Homo sapiens: one gene and its partners. The protein of the gene in region 1 purifies or fractionates together with the protein of each later gene. This does not show direct contact. Each region holds a gene or a part of one and is shown on either strand. Other genes may lie near its edges.

Evidence for each region. The genes of interacting proteins can lie anywhere in the genome.
Region 2: the proteins of ZNF653 (region 1) and THUMPD3 purify together in Homo sapiens (affinity purification with mass spectrometry; one large-scale study listed by BioGRID and IntAct). This does not show direct contact.
Region 3: the proteins of ZNF653 (region 1) and UTP25 purify together in Homo sapiens (affinity purification with mass spectrometry; one large-scale study listed by BioGRID and IntAct). This does not show direct contact.
Region 4: the proteins of ZNF653 (region 1) and ZNF100 purify together in Homo sapiens (affinity purification with mass spectrometry; one large-scale study listed by BioGRID and IntAct). This does not show direct contact.

What each region holds. Positions count from the first base shown.
Region 1 is NC_000019.10:11,495,392-11,500,275, reverse strand, and holds part of ZNF653 (zinc finger protein 653), read left to right. Parts: intron 1-1,936; coding exon 1,937-1,980; intron 1,981-4,110; coding exon 4,111-4,326; intron 4,327-4,653; exon of another isoform or gene 4,654-4,732; intron 4,733-4,884. UniProt on the Homo sapiens protein: Transcriptional repressor. May repress NR5A1, PPARG, NR1H3, NR4A2, ESR1 and NR3C1 transcriptional activity.
Region 2 is NC_000003.12:9,379,166-9,384,049, forward strand, and holds part of THUMPD3 (tRNA (guanine(6)-N(2))-methyltransferase THUMP3), read left to right. Parts: intron 1-1,337; coding exon 1,338-1,453; intron 1,454-4,033; coding exon 4,034-4,144; intron 4,145-4,884. UniProt on the Homo sapiens protein: Catalytic subunit of the THUMPD3-TRM112 methyltransferase complex, that specifically mediates the S-adenosyl-L-methionine-dependent N(2)-methylation of guanosine nucleotide at position 6 (m2G6) in tRNAs.
Region 3 is NC_000001.11:209,833,584-209,838,467, forward strand, and holds part of UTP25 (U3 small nucleolar RNA-associated protein 25 homolog), read left to right. Parts: intron 1-1,491; coding exon 1,492-1,580; intron 1,581-3,217; coding exon 3,218-3,628; intron 3,629-4,884. UniProt on the Homo sapiens protein: Component of the ribosomal small subunit processome for the biogenesis of ribosomes, functions in pre-ribosomal RNA (pre-rRNA) processing. Essential for embryonic development in part through the regulation of p53 pathway.
Region 4 is NC_000019.10:21,725,584-21,730,467, forward strand, and holds part of ZNF100 (zinc finger protein 100), read right to left. Parts: intron 2,407-4,884; coding exon 1,100-2,406; 3' UTR 1-1,099.

The DNA of each region.
Region 1 (4,884 bases):
ATGGAATGGGACCTGGAGTAGCAGAGCCAGAGGCAGGGGCAGAGCCTGGGGCAGGAAAGATGGAAGATCCCCAAGGTGCAGTCCTGGGAACCAGACGGGTGTGGGACTGAGAATTGTTACAGGGCTGGGCAGGAGTCAGACGGGGTGGACAGTTTTGCTGATAAGAGACACTAGACTGGCTGTCAGGATGTTTGTGGCAAGAGCAGGTCTGGGCCACAGCAGGGAGGCCAGGGGGCCCAGGCTCCACGATGATACTGATAATCATAACGATCATTGTACCATTTGCTTATTGATGATTAAGTGACAGGGCTGTACCATGACGAAGATCGTTTTTTGTTTGTTTTTGTTTGTTTCTTTGTTTTTGAGACACGGTTTTACTCTGTTGCCCAGGTTGGAGTGCAGTGGTGTGATCATAGCTCACTGCAGCCTTGACCTCCCCAGGCTCAGGTGATCCTCCCACCTTAACCTCCTGAGTAGCTGGGACTACAGGTGCATGCCACCCCGCCTGGGTAATTTCTGTATTTTTTGTGGAGATGGGGTTTCACTGTGTTTCCCAGGCTGGTCTCCAACTTCTGGCCTCAAGCGATGCACCCGTCTTAACCTCCTAACGTGCTGAGATTACAGGAATGAGCCACGGAGCCTGGCCTTTTTTTTTTTTTTTTTTAATTGTATAAATAGAGGTGGGATCTTGCTATGTTGCCCAGGCTGGTCTTGAACCCCTGGCTTCAAGCAGTCCTCCTGCCTCAGCCTCCCAAAGTGCTAGAATTACAGGTGTGAGACACCACACCCAGACAGTACCCACTGTCTTGCTGGCTGTGGGCCAAGACCACTCTCAGCCTCTCAAGTAGCTGGGACTACAGGCTTGAGCCACTGTGCCCTACAAGATATGTTCCCGTTTGATTAACTCACAGTCACCTAACCAAGGCTTGACATCCAGTCCTACTCACAGGCCTGCCCCGCTCAGGGGAAGAGGATCACACAGGGCATGTGTCCCAGCAGAACTGTGGGGGCCATCTTGGAATTCTGCTTCCACACAAACTTTTCATACCCACTTTGTTACTTCTCTGCTCCCTGACTGTGGGACCCAGGGCAGATGGCCTCACCCCTCCAAGCCTGTTTTTCCTGCTCCTTGAGGTGGATGATGCTAGAGCCCCCTCCCAGGGCTGATGGCAATTGGGGAGAGAGTCCAAGGGAGGGGCCTGGTGACACAGTTCTGGAGTTGGGGAAAGGTACATAGAAGTTCAGATTCTAGGCTGGGCACGGTGGCTCACGCCTGTAATCCCAACACTTTGGGAGGCCGAGGTGGGCGGATCACCTGAGGTCAGAAGCTTGAGACCAGGATGGCCAACATGGTGAAACCCCGTCTCTACTAAAAATACAAAATTAGTCTGTAATCCCAGCTATTCAGGAGTCTGAGGCAGGAGAATCACTTGAACCTGGGAGGCGGAGGTTGCAGTGAACCGAGATCGCACCACTGCACTCCAGCCTAGGCAACAGAGACAGACATTGTCTCAAAAAGAAAAAAAAGTTCAGGGCAGGCGTGGCGGCTCATGCCTGTAATACCAGCACTTTGGGAGGCTGAGGTGGGCGGATCACCTGAGGTCAGGAGTTCGAGACCAGCCTGGCCAACATGGTGAAACTCCGTCTCTACTAAACATACAAAAATTAGCCAGGTGTGGTGGCGTGCACCTGTAATCCCAGCTACTTGAGAGGCTGAGGCAGGAGAATCGCTGGAACCTGGGAGGCAAAGGCTGCAATGAGTCAAGATCTCACCACTGCACTCTAGCCTGGGCAACACAGTGAGACTCCATCTCAAAAAGTTCAGATTTAGTTTCAGTGTACAATGAGCAGTGGCTCTAGCCACTGTTGTTACTCATGGGTCAGACAGGCCCAGCGCTGGTCCCCCGTTCACCCTCTCTGCCTCTTTCTGTTGCAGGAAGCCTTGGGAGCAGGTCCCCAAAAAGCCAAAGCGGAAGAAAAGTAAGTGGAGGCTCAGCCTGGGGGAGGTGGGGAGAGTTGGGAGCGGTGGGAATATGGAGATGGAGGCCCAGAGAGGCCAGGTCGCTGCCCTAGGCAGCACAGTTGGAACCAGCAGAGCCCGACCTCAAACCCGGGTCTGCGTGTCTTGTGTCTCAGGCGCAGTGTCCTTGGCTCCCTCATTCTCTTGCTCCCGGCATGGGAGTCAGCCAGGGGAGAGCCGAGCAGAGGGAACAGCTTTTGCAGAGCCCTAAGGGCAGGGGGAGCCAAGCACTGGTGGTTAGAGGGGAGGTCTGGAGCTTGCTCCTCCTGTCCTGCTGGCCACCAGTTGGTGAGAGCTTGAACTGTCAGGGTCTGCACAGCTCTGAGCCCTGGAGCTGGGGGTCCCAGGCCATGTCCAGCAGGGTGAAGGCCAGCTGGTGGCAGTGAGCCCCTCCCTTCTTAGGTTTCTCCAGAGGCAGGGGTGAGCTATGACCTTGATCCTGAATCCTCAAGGGATGAGGAGCGCATTGAGGAGGGAAAGGGCTGGGCCGGAGAGGCGGCTGTGGGTGACGACTCTGTTGCCCTCATGATTGGAGACTGTGAGCACATTCCCTAGACCCAAACACCTCTTCTGGGCCCCTCTTCATCTCCCGGCCCACAGGGTAGGAGTGGGGGACATGCTGTCCTCGCACTTGGCTGAGGGACCAGGACCATCACAAGAGTCAGATACCATTTCCCAGCACTCACTGTGTGCCCAGCCTTGTTCTGTGTCCTGGCGATGTCTTCACTCCCTTCCTCCTGCCTGGCAGCCCTCCGGGATGGGAATCCCTTATTCTCCCCAGCCTAGAGGAGGCACCTGGGGCTCAGAGAAGCCAAGTCACTTGCCTGGAGCTACCCAGCTTGGAAGGGGCAGAGCCAGGATTCAAACCCAGGCGGTCCGGCTCCACCATGCCCGCCCGCTATGCAGCGTTCTCTCATCCAGCAAATGTTCCTGGAGCACCTGCTATGAACCAGGCCCTTTGGGGGCACTGGGGGTACAGGAGGAGCAAAACAGCAGTGTTCCTGCTCTTGAGGAGCTGACATTCTGGTGGGAGAGACAGACAGGGCACATGTAAACAAATGGCCACAGATGGCATCTAGGTACTACCTGGAGAAAACAGACAGCAAAGTTAAGGTCGGCTAGAGTGACTGGGCAGGGAGTGGCCTCTTGGAGGGGATGCATTTGGGGGAGACCTGAGTGAAGTGGGGAGGGAGCAAGACAGTTATCTAGAGGAAGCAGGCACAGCCTGTGCCAAGGCCCTGAGGCAGGGCCACACCTAGCCCGCTCCAGGAACAGCGAGGAGGCCATGTGGCTGGAGTGGAGTGCAGTCACCAAGTGGGTGAGGGCGGGGAGGTGACAAGTCACAGTGGGCCTTGTGGGCCGAAGGGAGGACTTTGGCTTTTACCCTGAGGGAGTTGGTCTTGCTGTGTCATCCAGGCTGGAGTGCAGTGTTGCGACCTTGGCTCACTGCATCCTCCACCTCCCAGGCTCAAGCGATCCTCCTACCTCAGCCTCCCAAGTAGCTGGGACAAAAGGCATACACCACCATGCCGGCCAATTTTTGTATTTTTAGTAAAGATGGGTTTTCGCCATGTTAGCCAGGCTGGTTTCAAACTCCTGGCCTTAAGTGATCCGCCTGCCTCTGCCTCCCAAAGTGCTAGGATTGCAGGTGTGAGTCATTGCGCCTGGCCCAGTGGATTCTGAGCAGAGGAGGGAACAGACTTGACTCGGGCATTCACAGGCGCCCCCTTGCGGCTGTAGGGGGTGGTTAGGGCGGGAGCCTGGGAGTCCTGGGCCTGAGGACTGCGCTGGTCTAGGCGTTTGATGAAGATGAGAACAATTAACAAGCAGCTAACAATTATTATGCACCTACTGTGCACCAGGCTCCACTGTTTACATGACTTTGCCAATAGAACAGTCCCCGTTACCTCCAGGGGGTGCCTCTCCTCTCTGAGCCTCAGTTTCCCCCTTTAAACTGGGTACAGGCCTGGATGGTACTCAGGAGGGCCTCCAAACCCATGGGACCCATAAAGCCCCGGTGGTTCAGGCAGCCATGTCACCATGGGCTGAGCCCTGTCCCTTATACCCACTCCTCGGCCCTGTGTCCATAGGGCGGCGACGCAACGTGAACTGCCTGAAGAACGTGGTGATCTGGTACGAGGACCACAAGCACCGCTGCCCGTACGAGCCGCACCTGGCGGAGCTAGACCCCACTTTTGGCCTGTACACCACGGCCGTGTGGCAGTGCGAAGCTGGCCACCGCTACTTCCAGGACCTGCATTCGCCCCTGAAGCCCCTCAGCGACTCAGACCCTGACAGTGACAAAGGTAGGTCTGCAGGGCGAGGGCACATAGGGGGCCGCCCATTTCTGGGGGCTTCTTACGAGCCCTAGGCTAGCATCACAAACAGAATAGCAGCCACAGTGGCTCTGGCTCTGGCTCTGGCACTGGGGCAGAGCAGGGACACGATGGGCCAGGCTGAGTCCTTCGTGGCCTTGCCCTCTTTGCGTCCTTACAGAGCTTGAGTGGGGAGGCAGTCCCTCTTTATGGAGCAGTTTGCCAATCTGTGCCCAAGGCCAGTCCCAGGCAGGGCTGGCTGAGGGCCCAGGAGCCCTGGCTTGGCAGCTGGGGCGGGGGCAGGCCTGCTGGGGCAGGGCTCGGCCCCCACAGCGAAACGGCCGCCTAAACCACCCAGGCCTTATGGCTTCATAGGCTGTGATGCTCTCCTGAGCCCTGGCTAAGCTGGCCGCTACCTCCTTTTCGATTTTCTCTGGCTCCCAGTTGCATTCTCTTGCCTTCTGCCTTTCCAGGCTTCGTTTCTTGCCTTCCCCCTCCATTCTGTTTCCCTCCTGTTCCCCATTTCTCCTCCCTTGAGCTGCCTCTGTC
Region 2 (4,884 bases), on another chromosome or scaffold:
GCTATAAAACCCAATTCTTTCCAATGCTGAAAATCCAAATAGGTTTAGGAAAAAAAAAAAAGAATATTTGGGAATCGGAATCACTGAGAGCCTTCCTCAAACTCTAGGTCCCCTCTACATCCCCACCCACCCAAAATTCTGGGATACTTCAACTTCCCTTTTGTTTGATGTCATCGTAGGATTGTAGACAGGGTATGTTATCACCCTCAAGTGTCTGGGCAAAAGAAAAAGTTATGAAACACTGCACTCATGGATGAGAAGTATGTTACTGTTCACAAAGGAACACAAAGGTGTTTGCTACTCACCCCTAAGCAGAGGCAGACCTTTCCCGGCTTTCGTGTCAGAAACCTTCTGTTAATCTGCATAGAACATTGTTCAGGCCTAGGGTCACGTCACCTCATTCCACAAATGACATGTGACAGCTTGGTATTTATGTTCTGCTGACAGGTTTTTTATTTATAATTACAAAATCCTTCCAGTGATATGGTGGTTACCATTCAAAAGCCTATCATACAAAGGAAATTGCATTTTACTATTATTTTTTTGACCTGGGGTCTTGCTCTGTCAGCCAGGCTGGAGTGCAGTGGTGTAATCTCAGCTCCCTGCAACCTCTGCCTCCCTGTCTTAAGCCATTCTCCCACCTCAGCCTCTCGAGTAGCTGAGACTCAGGTGCACACCATCACACCCAGCTGATTTTTGTGTTTTTGTAGAGATGGGCTTTCACCATGTTCCCAGGCTGGTCTCAAACTCCTGGGCTCAAGAAATCCTCCTGCCTCAGCTTCCCAAAGTGCTGGGATTTCAGGTGTGAGCCACCATGCCCGGCCGGAAATAGCATTTTATTTTGCAATTTTCAAATATATCAGATTATGTAAACTCCCACAACCACAAATCTCAAATATTTTCAAACCGCATTAACTTAGAATTTAGTGTGCCAGACACTGCTGGATGAGGAACTGAATAAAATACTAGACCTGACCTCAGAGAGCTCCCAGGTTAGTTGAGAGGCATAAAGGGGAAGAAATAATTAACCGTGGGACAAGTGCAGTGGCAGAGGTACGTACATACAAAGTGTTTTTGGGAGGGGCACATAAGACTGCTTGGAGAGTTAAGGTTGATGTTGAAAGGGCATGAGGTTTGAGCTGGGTCTTAAGAGATGGGTAGAGGTTCAGCAAGCAGAGAAAGAATAAGAGGGCATTTTCAGCCAGGGAAATAGCACAGTTGACAACATGCAATGTTTTGCCACTCTAGAAAAGCACTGGATTTTCTTTGTTTGTTGACAATTTAATCATATTTTACAGTTTGCTACTTTTGTTTTAACATACACTCTTATCTTTTAGGGGGCCACTGAATGGTCTGACTGTTTCCATATTGCTGGTGATAATAATCCACTGGCTGTGAATAGAGCAGCAAATAACATTGCATCTTTATTGACCAAGAGCCAAATTAAAGAAGGGTAAAAATTTAAAAGATTTCTTAGCATCTTTTAGAGTTAGAGAATCACTTTTTATATTGACTTTATGAATTAAAACTCCCAGTGCATTGTGACGTCATTGTAACCAAAATGAATATACTATGAGACTCCATTTACATTTTTAAAGTTTATTGAAAATAAGTTATATTTTTAAAATATTATTTTAGCGATAATTTCCCCACCATATGCAATTTTTCATTTGTCTTATTCATATGTCTTTTCCCCTACATATTGGAAGAATATTTTATAGACTCATTTTAATTTCACAAAATTTTAAACAGTATATTTTTACATAGGCTTCTTTTTTGCTTTGGGTACAGGGTCTCATTTTGTCACCCAGGCTGGAGTGCAGTGACATGATCATGGCTCACTGTAGCCTCAACCTACTGAGCTCAAGCAATCCTCCTGCCTTGGCCTCCCTAGTAGCTAGGAATACAGGCATGTGCCACCATGCCCAGCTAATTTTTTAAAATCTTCGTAGAGATGGGGGTCTTGCTGTTTTGTCCAGGCTGGTGTCAAACTCCTGGCCTCAAGAGATTCTGCCGCTTCAGCCTTCCAAATTGCTGGGATTAGAGACGAGTCACCACACCTGGACCATAGTCTTTAAAGTCACTACATAAATTCCATCGTATAGAAATACTGCAGTTTATATAGCCTCGCCTCTATTTTATTACTAAGTCATTGGTTATATATTTCATTGTCTCTCTGATCTAATTTTTTAGGACAGTGCTTCTCAAACATTAATGTACATGTGAATCACCTAGGAGTACTGTTAACACAGATCTGATTTAGTAGTTTGGGATGGGACCTAAGAGTCTGCATTTTCCAGGAAACTCCAGGACAATGCTGATGCTGCTGGTCTATGTATCAACATTAAATCCTTTTACGTGTATTAAGACAAGTAGTTGGAAGGCTTCAATTTTCTTAAATACTGATTTATTGTGATGAATTAATTTTGAATGGTTGTTTCATATTTATTGAGGGTTTTTTTTAATGAGCCTAGTATATGGCCAGTCTTTTTTTTTTTTAATTAAAACTGATAAACATTTAAACAAACGTACCTTTCTAGCTTCTGAATATTTTATCTTGTTTGTACCTACACTGTCTGTTCAACCCGTACTTTTTTTTTTTTTTTTTTTTTTTTTTTTTTTTTTTTTTTTTGAGACGGAGTCTCACTCTGTCGCCCAGGCTGGAGTGCAGTGGCTTGATCTCGGCTCACTGCAAGCTCCGCCTCCCGGGTTCACGCCATTCTCCTGCCTCAGCCTCCCAAGTAGCTGGGACTACAGGCACCCGCCACCATGCCCGGCTTATTTTTTTTTTGTATTTTTAGTAGAGACGGGTTTTCACCATGTTAGCCAGGATGGTCTCAATCTCCTGACCTCATGATCTGCCCACCTTGGCCTCCCAAAGTGCTGGGATTACAGGCATGAGCCACTGTGCCCGGCCTCAACCTGTACATTTCTATCCATTTTACTTTGGTTTTTAATATTTTTTGCCTTTTGTTTTGTGCAGTTATTGGTATGCGGTTATAATACATATTTTATGTGTACTTTTAAAAATTATGTAATGATTGCTTTTATTGCATTTTTTTCTTAAATTCTTCATTAAATGTCAATTAAATCCTTAATTTCTGCTGATAACCTTTGACTTATCTTCAGTTCTTAGCCTGTGCATTATTTTGTTTCTTAAACCAGTTGCTTTGCCTTAATGAGGAGGATTTAAATCCTTTGTATTTATTATTATTCATTCTGTCTTCTGTCATCTATATTTTTTATCTTAACTTTTTTCTTAGTCTTGTTTTATATAGCATGGCACATATTTTCCTTTTGGTTTTTCATCTTGAAACAATTACCTATATATTTGCCAATTTTACTATCTGTTTTTCTTTTAGGCCTCCTGTTATTACTAGTTTTACAAACTTTATTCTTCAGATACATCACCCCATTATCTATTCTTTAGTATTGTTTTTCTCCAGTGTATGTTTTATCAGCAACTTAAATTTTTGTATCATCGGTTATGTAATTTACTGCTTCAGCATTGTTTTTAAAGTTGTCTTTTGCAGTTCTCTGCATTACAATCATGTTTTCAGTTTGTTTCCCTTTTTTCTGAGACGGGGGTCTTGCTCTGTCACCCAGGCTGGAGTAAAGCGGCACAATCCTAGCTCACTGCATCTTTCAACTCCTGGACTCAAGTGATCCTCCCACCTCAGCCTCCTGAGTAGCTGGGACTATAGGTGTGTGCCATCATGCCCTGCTAACTTCTTAAAAAAGTATTTTAGAGACAAGGTCTCACAGTGTTGCTCAGCTGGTCTCAAATTCCTGGAGTCCAGTGATCCTCCCACCTCAGCCCCTGAAAGTGCTGATTATAGGCACAAGCTACCATGCCCAGCCTGACCTATTTTTTACCTTTGTGCCATTTCTTAAATTTTGAATAGGTTGATATTATCACTGATATCCTTAGCAGTTTATGTTTTGCTGTAGCAGTCTCTCTTCAGAAACAAAAATTGTTGTAATAACTTTATGCTTCACAGTATGTTGAAGCACCTTTCCTTTGTCCCCACAGCAAACCCTCCTGGGGCTTGCCCATAGATGCTGTTCAGTGGGATATCTGCAATCTGCCATTGAGAACTGGCTCTGTGGATATTATTGTAACAGATTTGCCATTTGGAAAAAGGTGAGAAATACTAGTACCTGCTTGTCTTCTAAATATGTCATTATTTTCCTTGCGTTTATTCTAAGTCAGGAAAAAAATCTTGAATTTTAGCAGACTTAGCAGAGCTGTTTTTCACTTAACAACATGATGGATTCACCCATTATGTTTCTTCCGAGAACTCAGGAATGTATTAACTACATTTGGAATCCTGACCATCATGGGAGGTTCATTTTTAAATTACCTGTAATTCACTTTCTAGCCCATTCTTGAATTATATATCCTACACAAAAAGGTGGTAGAAGACTTGGTTCTCATTCTGTTTCTCAGCATAAATGATTCTTTTTTTTTTTTTGGAGACAGAGCCCTGCTCTGTTGCCCAGGCTGGAGTGCAGTGGTATGATCTCGGCTCACTGTAACCTCTGCCTCCCGGGTTCAAGCGATTCTCCTGCCTCACCCTCCTGAGTAGCTCGGATTTCAGGCACATGCCATCATGCCCAGCTTATTTTTGTATTTTTAAAAGACAGGGTTTCACCATATTGGCCAGGCTGGTCTCAAACTCCTGACTTCAGGTGATCTGCCCGCCTCAGCCTCCCAAACTGCTGGGATTACAGGCATGAGCCACCAAAACACCTGGCCTAAATGATTTCTAATCACTTGTTTGGTTTATACAGTTTGACTGCTTATTATACTAAGAGGACAAGTCATATAACTAACACAGTTGTCTAAAAAAAATTTTTTTGATTCAGAATTCTAAGCAGTTT
Region 3 (4,884 bases), on another chromosome or scaffold:
GCTTCCCAGGCCTCACATTTTCATTATTGGAGTCAGGGGAAGATTTCTGATTTTCTCCCCAAGTAGGGAAAGAGAAAGAAAAAGAGGAAAAAATACTTCCTCTACCCCTCACTTGCTGTTCCTTTTTGGAGCAGTAATTTTTCAGATTTGCAAGACCCAGGGGTGGCTAATCTGAGTGGTCTTTATTACCAGGGAGACCCTCAAAAGCCAAAAAGCCCTACCCTGTGTCTCCTGCCTCCCACAGACTCTTGACCACTCCTGTGACCAAATGGCAGTCACGTGGTCAAGACGTGCCTATGGCGGGCTTTGATGGGTTCCTGCTGTCTCAAGTCCAGTTTCTCAGCCAGTGTCTGGGTGGGCAAGTCAGGTTGGTCTCGTTCTGTATCCTGATTGCCTTCATTGATCTCATTGCCATTCTTCAACCCAGCTTTACCTTTAATGAAACAGAAATTTTAATCCTCATTTGACTCATTTAGTTCTGTTGGTTATTTTGCAGGAGAAGAAGTGACAGGTAGAATTTGTAGATTTTAGTACAAACTCCATTCTGAACCATTAAAACTTAGAAACTTTGGAGGAAACATTAGGAAGCTTGACTGTCCCATAATTTCTGTGGTTGTTTTGCTCATACAGATATATTAGCATCTAGAATTCTTATGTCCTGTTGTTCACTCTTAGATATTTAATACAAGATGCATTTCATTTGAAATTTTACTGTTTGGATGCTTGGATGGGTCATTTAACTTTGTTCTGTTTCTTATGAGTGGGACTGGGAGAGAAGGTTGGGTGGCTAGCTCAGAATACTAAAGATTACTTGGAGTGCAGATGCTATCATGTGGATCATTTGTTCAATTCAGTGGAGTATTGGTCATATCTGTGTGTCCCAGTGCAAGATCAATCAGACATGGAACCTGTTCTTAGAGACCTTGCAGTCTGCTAGATAAGACATGTATATATGTATATGTGTTGGAATGGGTGGGTTGGGCAGAGTAGGAGACTTGAGAAAGTGATGACTCTAGGGAACAAGGTGAGCCAACGTTGTGCCTAACACAGTAAGCCTGGGAAGTATTTATTGTGATTCAGTGGGTAACATTAAATTGATAACATTTGGATATGCAAAAATGAAGTGAAGGAGAGGCTGGAATTTTTAGTTGAAGGAAGGAAAAGCACAGAGGCAGAAGAATTTGAGGGCCATATAGTCCAGAAATGATAACGGAGATGCAGGTTGGAGGTATATCCTAAAGTGCTCTGAATTCCAGGCTGAGAAGTTTCTTCAAAAGTTTTCAAGCTGGGAAGTAATATAATTAGAGAAATGTTTTAGGAAAATGAACCTTTCAGAAGTTTTTAAGCTCTGGACTTGGCCAGAGGGTGGGGAAAGTCAATGGAGAAAAGGATGAGTTAACACAATGAAGATCAACATGTCTTTCACAGGGGAAGACCACAAAACCCCTCTGTAGTTGCATAGTGTGCTGACATTTTTTATTTCTGAATTAGATCCATTTCTTCAACATGTGAACAAAGAACTGAAAGAAAAAGCAATTCAGGCTGTTGCCACAAATCCCAAAACTACCCACGAGCTTAAAGTAAGTGTTGCTTGGTCATCCCGGTCACAAATAGAGAAAGCTCTAAATAAAACAGTGGTCTTGGGTTTTAGTGGCCTCCCAGAATGTATGATATACACCTGCAGTAGATGGCTTGATAGGGAAGCAGGGCATAAGGAAGGCTAGAAGAGCCTAGTGGGGCACAGTTGTAGCTAGAAAACGCACCAGGAAGCTGGAGTGTGGGTGCCAGATAATATAATGATGGGTAAGAGTGGATTTGGAGACCAACATCTTCAAGGAGCTATCACATTTTGACCCAAGGCAAGTTCATCTGCTTTTTTGCTATTCACTATTCTAGTCTGCTAGAGGGGGATAATAATACCTATCTCAAAATAGAATAGTTTACTAATACATAGTGTTCAGTAAAACAGTGTTCATTAAAACAGTAGGTACTACTGTTGTTCATTTGTTTGAAATATCTGAGGTAGGTCCACAAATAAATTATCCAGATATTGGGCAGTTTTTGCTTCTTTGTTCTTACCACTGATGCCATTCATGAGAGTTGGTCATCCTTTTTTTAATTGAAATTTTTATTGAGGGAATAATTATAGATATACATGCAGTTGTAAGAAATCATACAAAGACATCTTGTACCCTTTGCCCAGTTTTCCTCAGTGGTGAAATCTTGTAGAACTGTAGTATAATGTCACAGCCAGGAAACTGACATTGATATAATCTACCAGTCTTACTCAGATCTGGTTTTACTCCTGTTCAACTGCATATGCCTGTGCCTATATTTATATACAATTTTATCATGCATAGGTTCCTGTATCTACTCCTGCCATCAAGATGCAGAACATTTCCAGCAAAATACAAATCCTTGTTGCCCTTTTATAACCATATCTGCCTCCCTCTGCACCCTGCCCCACCCCCATTTCTAACCCCTGGTAACCACTAATCTGGTCTCCATTTCTATAATTTTGTCATTTTAAAAATGTTAAATGACTCATACAGCATGTAACCTTTTGAGATTGTTTTTTTTTCACTCAGCATGATTCCCTGGAGAGTCATCCAAGTTATTTCAGCTATCAGTAATTTATTTCTTTTTATTGCTGAGGTTGTCCTATTTTTAGATCAGCAATTTAGCTATAATGCAAAAATTCTTAAACTTGTATCCCACAAAATAGAAAATAGTATTCCTTAGGATTTAAACAAAATGGACAGATTTCTTGTCATAGAACTTGTCAACACCTTTAGTATCGAGTGTACATTGTCAATCTCCCTCAGAGGAATTAAGTTTTGTGATGTTTATCAAGGGTATTTGACCATGGAACCCCTTTGTTTCTAGAATGAATGTTGACTCTTCCCAGAATATATTCCACAGAACAGTGTGGGACAACTGATAGGGTGAAGAGCTCAGATTTGAAGTCAGAAACCTTGGGGTCTAGCCCTCAGCTCCATTTTCTTCTGTGTAAACTTTGTATCATACAACCTCTGTATGAACCTCAGTGCTTCCTAAACTATAACATGAGTATCATGGTAACTACCTTGCAGGGCTGTTGTGAGGATTAAATGAGATGATCTATAAATCATGAAAAAATTCGCTAAATATAGTACTATGTGAATGTAATTTACTGTTATTCATTTCTAATTTGGCTCTTGATCTGTTTCTCCCCTAGTGGCCTATTCTGGGCCAGCTTTTCTTTTCCTCTAAGTTTCAGAAGTTGGAAACATTTAAACCCCCAAAGGATATTGACTTAAAGTCACTTCATCTCCAGAAGCCTCTGGAATCCACCTGGACTAAGACCAACAGCCAGTTCCTATCTGGTCCCCAAAAATCAAGCAGCCCATTCACCCCCCTCCAGAAAGAACTCTTCTTAATTATGAATTCTTACCGGGACCTGTTCTACCCGGAAAGGACTGCTCTGAAGAACGGGGAAGAGATCCGCCATGTGTATTGCCTGCATGTGATAAATCACATCCTCAAAGCCAATGCCCAGGTGCTTGGCAACAATAGCAGACGCCGAAGCCAGAAGTTTGGAGTGGGTGATGATGATGACTTCAGAGACCAAGGGTTAACAAGGCCCAAGGTGAGTCCAGCAGGAAAGCTTTGCTCTCGAGGAGGTGGCTGCAAGGCACTGCCATAGAGGTGCCTGACACTTAGCAGGAACTTGGGTATTTTAATAATTGACTGGCATAATGAATGAGCCCAAATGTGAGCATATTAAGTAGGCCAGGTAGTGTCAGAGCAGCACTGCAGCAGCTTAGTGGGCTGTTTCTGACAGTGGATGTAGCTGGAAACTTGCGAGAAGGAGGCACTTCATGACACTTTCCTTAAAGATAAACCCAGAGTATATAAATAAAACTCCATTATAAATCTCTTCTTTGTGGTTGTCAAAGCTGGATGGGACCTTAATGAGCCTTTTATCCAATCCCTCCATATTACAGCTGTGGACAACCCCAAATTCGTAGAAATTCATAGAGGGCCTTGCTAAAGAGAACCAGGGAAAGAATAGCAGAGATGAGACAAGAACCATAGATTCTCTTCACTAAGCCACATACATACGTCAGCCTTTGAAAGCAAAAATTTACATTTGCCACTGTAAAGTTATTGCTGCTTAAAGTGATGCGTTTGTATTCATAAGTCTAAGCTCTAGTGGATTTGAGGCCTTAACAGGAAATGGCTTTCAATTTTATCTACATTATTCATGATGTTATAGAACCAGGACTTGTCCCCCTGCCCTGAACTGCATCTCTCCGTATTGAAGAAGCCTCATCTTTTTAGAATTTTCTCATTGAGTTTAATAGGATTCTAGAAATTTGATACTAATGTGGCCTTTAGAGATTTCTTAGTCAAACTCCCTTGTGTAATAGCGGGGGAAACCAAAGCCCCGACGCTTACTGTCACCGCTGGAACAATAACCCAGTCCTCTTAAATCTTGGTCCACCATCTCTGCAACTGTACCAAGCTGAGTCCACTGCACTCCTTGGGGCTTGAACATCAGGGTTATAAGGTTGTTTCCATTTAGAATTACATAGAAGAATAAGAGGCAGATTATCTATGAAACATATTATAATTTGGTGAATTACGTGATTTAACTGGGGTTATGTCCATTGTTTACAATAGGAAATTAGAAATTAACCATTTTTTAAGCATCTTCGGTTTTTATTCTCAACAGTAACTTTAAATATTTTTGAATATGCTTAGAAAGCTGAGTCCTGTTTTTCCCATTAATTGTGGTCATTTTTTTTTAGAAATGCTTTATTGTCATTTCTGAAACACTGTATAGAGAATGCACTAGAAATGTAATGATGTGTTAATCCTTTTTCTTACCCGCTTTATTTC
Region 4 (4,884 bases), about 10 Mb from region 1:
CAATTGATCACATGCTTTCACATGTAAATAGGAGTGAAGAAAAGGCAGGAAATAATTTAAGAGTTGAATTACATTATTACTCACTTTTCAAAAAATCTAATTTTTTCAAAAAGTTAAGCATACTTTGAATGCAATAACTGCAAAAAATTTCTACTTTTAAAGTTATATACAAATATTTTACCAATTTTAGTTTTAGATTATTTTCTATACTCAGCACTCTGATTTAGTAAAATACCTGAAGCATCAGTGCCTTACATATTTCTACTGTAAATTCTCTGATATTTACAGACTTAATGATTAAAATTTTTAAAAAATTTTTCCTGTATCTGCAAAAATATGTTTTAGTATGAACTCTCTGGTGTTTTCTAAGCTGTAGTTTTTGAAAAAGTATTTTTCCAACTTTATTACATTCGCACAGTTTTTTTCAATATAAATTCCCTGATATTGAACAAAGTTTGAGCAACTGCTTCAGAGGTTTCCTCTAATACAAAACGTGTACAGTAAGATCTGTGATACAAGTAAACATATTACAATTCTACTACAATGTTCTTCTTCAAAATACTCTTCACTTTAAAAGCTTATATTTTCTTAAAGATATTTTGACAGTAGTTGCACTTATGTTTTTATTGAGTATGAACTCTCTGATGTTGAGTAAGATGTGAGCATGTATTAATGGCTTTTTCACAGTCTTTATATTTGTACAATATTTCTCAAGTATAAATGCTTTCCTGTGAAGGTGTGAGCATTAGTTAAAAGTTTTGTCACACTGTTCACACATGTAGAAGTTTTCTCCAGTATAACTTACCTTACCTACAATCAAGTGTGACAACCATTTAAAACTTTATCACATTCTTCACATTTCTAGGATTTCTCAACACTATGATTTATGTTTTGAAAAGTTTGAGGTGTTTTCAAAGCACTGTCACATCTTTCTGGTTTGTAGAATTTCTCTCTAGTATGAATTATCTTATGTCTGTTAGGAATTGAGAATTTATTAAAGGCTTTGCCATATTCTTCACAGTCACAGGAGTTCCCTCCAGTATGAATTTTTTTATGTTTAGTAAGAGTTGAGGACTGGTAAAAGGCTTTGCCACATTTTTCACATTTGTAGGGTTTCTCTCCAGTATGAGTTATTTTGTTTAATAAGGCTTAGGGACTGGTTAAAGTCTTTACCACATTCTTCCCATTTGTAAGATTTCTCTCCAGTATGAGTTATCTTATGTTTAGTAAGGGTTGAGGATCGGTTAAAAGCTTTGCCACATTCCTCACATTTGTAGGGTTTCTCTCCAGTATGAATCATCTTATGTGCAGTTAGTTGTGAGGACCGGTTAAAGGCTTTGCCACATTCGTCACATTTGTAGGGTTTCTCTCCAGTATGAATCATCTTATGGGTAGTAAGGTTTGAGGACTCATTAAAAGCTTTGCCACATTCTTCACATTTGTAGGGTTTCTCTCCAGTATGAATTCTCTTATGTTTAGTGAGGGCTGAGGACCAGTTAAAGCCTTTGCCGCATTCTTCACATTTGTAGAATTTCTCTCCAGTATGACTTGTCTTATGTTTAGTAAGGTATGAGAATCGGTAAAAAGCTTTGCCACATTCTTCACATTTGTAAGGTTTCTCTCCAGCATGAGTTATCTTATGTGTAGTAAGGGTTGAGGACTGGTTAAAGGCTTTGCCACATTCTTCACATTTGTAGGGTTTCTCTCCAGTATGAATTATCCTGTGTGTAGTAAGGTGTGAGGACCGGTTAAAAGCTTTGCCACATTCTGTACATTTGTAGGGTTTCACTCCAGTATGAATTCTTTTATGTGTAGTAAGGTGTGAAGACCGGTTAAAAGCTTTCCCACATTCTTCACATCTGTATGGTTTCTCTCCAGTATGAATTATCTTATGTGTAGTAAGGTGTGAGGACCGGTTAAATGCTTTCCCACATTCTTCACATTTGTAGGGTTTCTCTCCAGTATGAATTCTCCTGTGTGTAGTAAGGGTTGAGAACCAGTTGAAGGCTTTGCCACAATCTTTACATTGGTAGGAATTCTCTGTAATATGAAATCTTTTATGTTGAGTTAGGTGTAAAAGCATGCAAAATGATTTTTCACATTTTTTACATTTGAAAGGTTTCTTTCTAGTATGTCTTATCTTATGTCTGTTTGAATTTGAAAATGTATGAAAGACTTTTGCAGATGGATCACATTGAAATATGTTGCTCTGGGTAGTTATCAAACACTGGTTTAATTTGTTATCATGTTCTTTGTGCACTTTACACTCATCCACACTTTTACAGCCTTTTTGTAACTGTAAATTGTCATGTCCATATTTTCCATATTTTTTCAGAATCGCTTCTTGAAAAGAATCTTTAATGTCCTGCTCTGCCCAAAGGTCTTGGGGAAAATGAGAACATATAACTGAAAGAAATAAAAATAACAAATTACTTTACTTACTAGACACAGATAGTTTACAAATCTAACCTCTAATATACAAACTACATAAATAAGATGGCATAGGAAAATACCAAAGGCCCTCATTCCTTTATAGACATATAAATGTAAAAAAAAAAAAACCAACCAAATTACATCTGAAAAAAATTATAAATGAGTTAAGTGTGTGAAGTGCCCCTGGTGAGAACAATGCAAAGAGCCACTTAGAAGTAAAAGTCTGTACATTTACCCAACAGAGCTCTTTCTGCTCCCCAATATAACATACTGTCTTTAGAAGTAAATTGCCAACTTGTTTTTAATGACAAGTAAAATACTGGCACATTTATCTTTATTACTTGCTTCTAGGAGCCTTTCCAGACACTGGTTTGTGTCTCTCTTGAAATATAATGCTGAAAGAAACGGTGGTATACTTTGGAGTGACAGTCTTAACTTTGCTGAGACCAAAGGTAAATGTTTCAGCAACAGAGAGACTGCTGTACCACAGACAGAAAACAGGTGTAGCACGTGATTATTATTAAGAAGAAACATGAATAAACTCCTTTAACTAAAAGAGAAAGACAAAATCTCAGACAAGACACATTCTAAGAACATGTTTGAGAGACTCCCAGAATCTCTAACCAAGACGATTGTTCAGACTATGCCAGGACAAAGCTACATTATAAAGATTGTGACAGGTAGCCTTTTTTAATGTCCAAATTTCAATCAAGGATTACAATGTATACAAAATAAGGCAATATGGTTCCATAAAAATATAAAATTTTAAAAAAGAAACTATAAAAAAGATGTATACACACCGATTTTAAAAATTGAAAATAAATTGAATAATACTCAGTGAGTGAAACAGGAAGACAGAGAACTATAGAAAATCAGAAAAATGAAGATAAGAACATAAATATTTAGAATATCAAAAAAACAAATTGTGGAGGTAATAAATATAAAAAAGAATAGCTGAAAAATATTGAAAGAAACGATGTAAAGATGAAGAAGCTCAACAAACAAACTAGGAAACACACAAAGATATTTATAACAAACACATATATAAGCACAATTTCAAAAGTCACAGACAAGAGAACCTTGGGAGCTGCAAGATAAAAGTGATGCGTCATTTGCCAGCATAGTCTTATGAGACAGCCAGTGAATTGTCAATAAAAATTTTGCAGGCCAGAAGGGAAGTGTGTAATAAAGTCAAACTCCTGTAAAATACAGCAATCAAGTAAGCATAATACTATCAGCAAATCTGTCCTGCCAAATAAAAAGAAAATAACTTTCAAAAGTAACAAAATTCTGAAAAGTATATTGGAACTCCATAAACCCTACATACAAAATGTACTGAAAGCAGTTGCTTCTATTGAAAATAACATGATTCAACAAAAACAACACAGTCAAATAAAAATACATTACTTTCGGGAGGGGGGAGGGATAGCATTAGGAGAAATACCTAATGTAAACGACGAGTTAATGGGTGCAGCACACCAACATGGCACATGTATACATATGTAACAAACCTGTACATTGTGCACATGTACCCTAGAACTTAAAGTATAATAATGAAAGAAAAAATAAAAACAAAACAAAACAAAAACAAAAAACAACAAAAAAATACATTACTTTCTGGGAAAGATTATATGCACATATATACTTTTACTTCTAAGTATATGCACATACACCAAAATGGAATTCCTTAGCATTATCATAATGGTGCAGAAAACATTTTTAATTATTCTCTAAAATTTGAAAGTGAAAATCAGAGAAATCATTATAAACATCTGTTAATAAATATACAACATAAAAAGATATAATTAGCAAAATCAATGACAAATTTGAGGGGAGAAGTAATGAGAAAAAAAATGTGCATGCAACTGAAGTTCTTTTTTACCAGATTGAAATATACTGTTATATCTTTTAGAGGTTTACGTAATCCCCAAGGTCCAAAAAAGAACATGTGTGTATAGATACACAAAACAAGAAAGAAGTAAAAGCATATCAATATAAAAATAAAAAGATACAAAGACAGAGAGAAAATGAGTGACCAAGATATAAGAATCAAATAAAACAATTAATAAAATAACATTAGTATGTCTTTCTGTTTCAGAAAATTATTTAAATATATATGTTTAACTTTCCAATCAAGAGACATACTTTCAATAGAGACTTATTTAAATATTTTAAAAACTGAGATCCAACTTGCCTTTCTACGACAGTAAGCTGAGATCTATTGATTAAAAAAAAACTGAAAGTGGCAAGATGGATGTAGATATTGCATGTAAATATTAACCAAATGAGAGAAGAGGTCAAAATAATATTACATAAGCTACATCTTACGTGAAAAACTTTCATATTTTATAAAATGTACTGCAAGTCAAAACTGCAAAGAGACAAAGAAGGGCATTAAACAATAATAGATTCATTTACTGATAACCTAAGTGTGTGTGTGTGTGTGTGTGT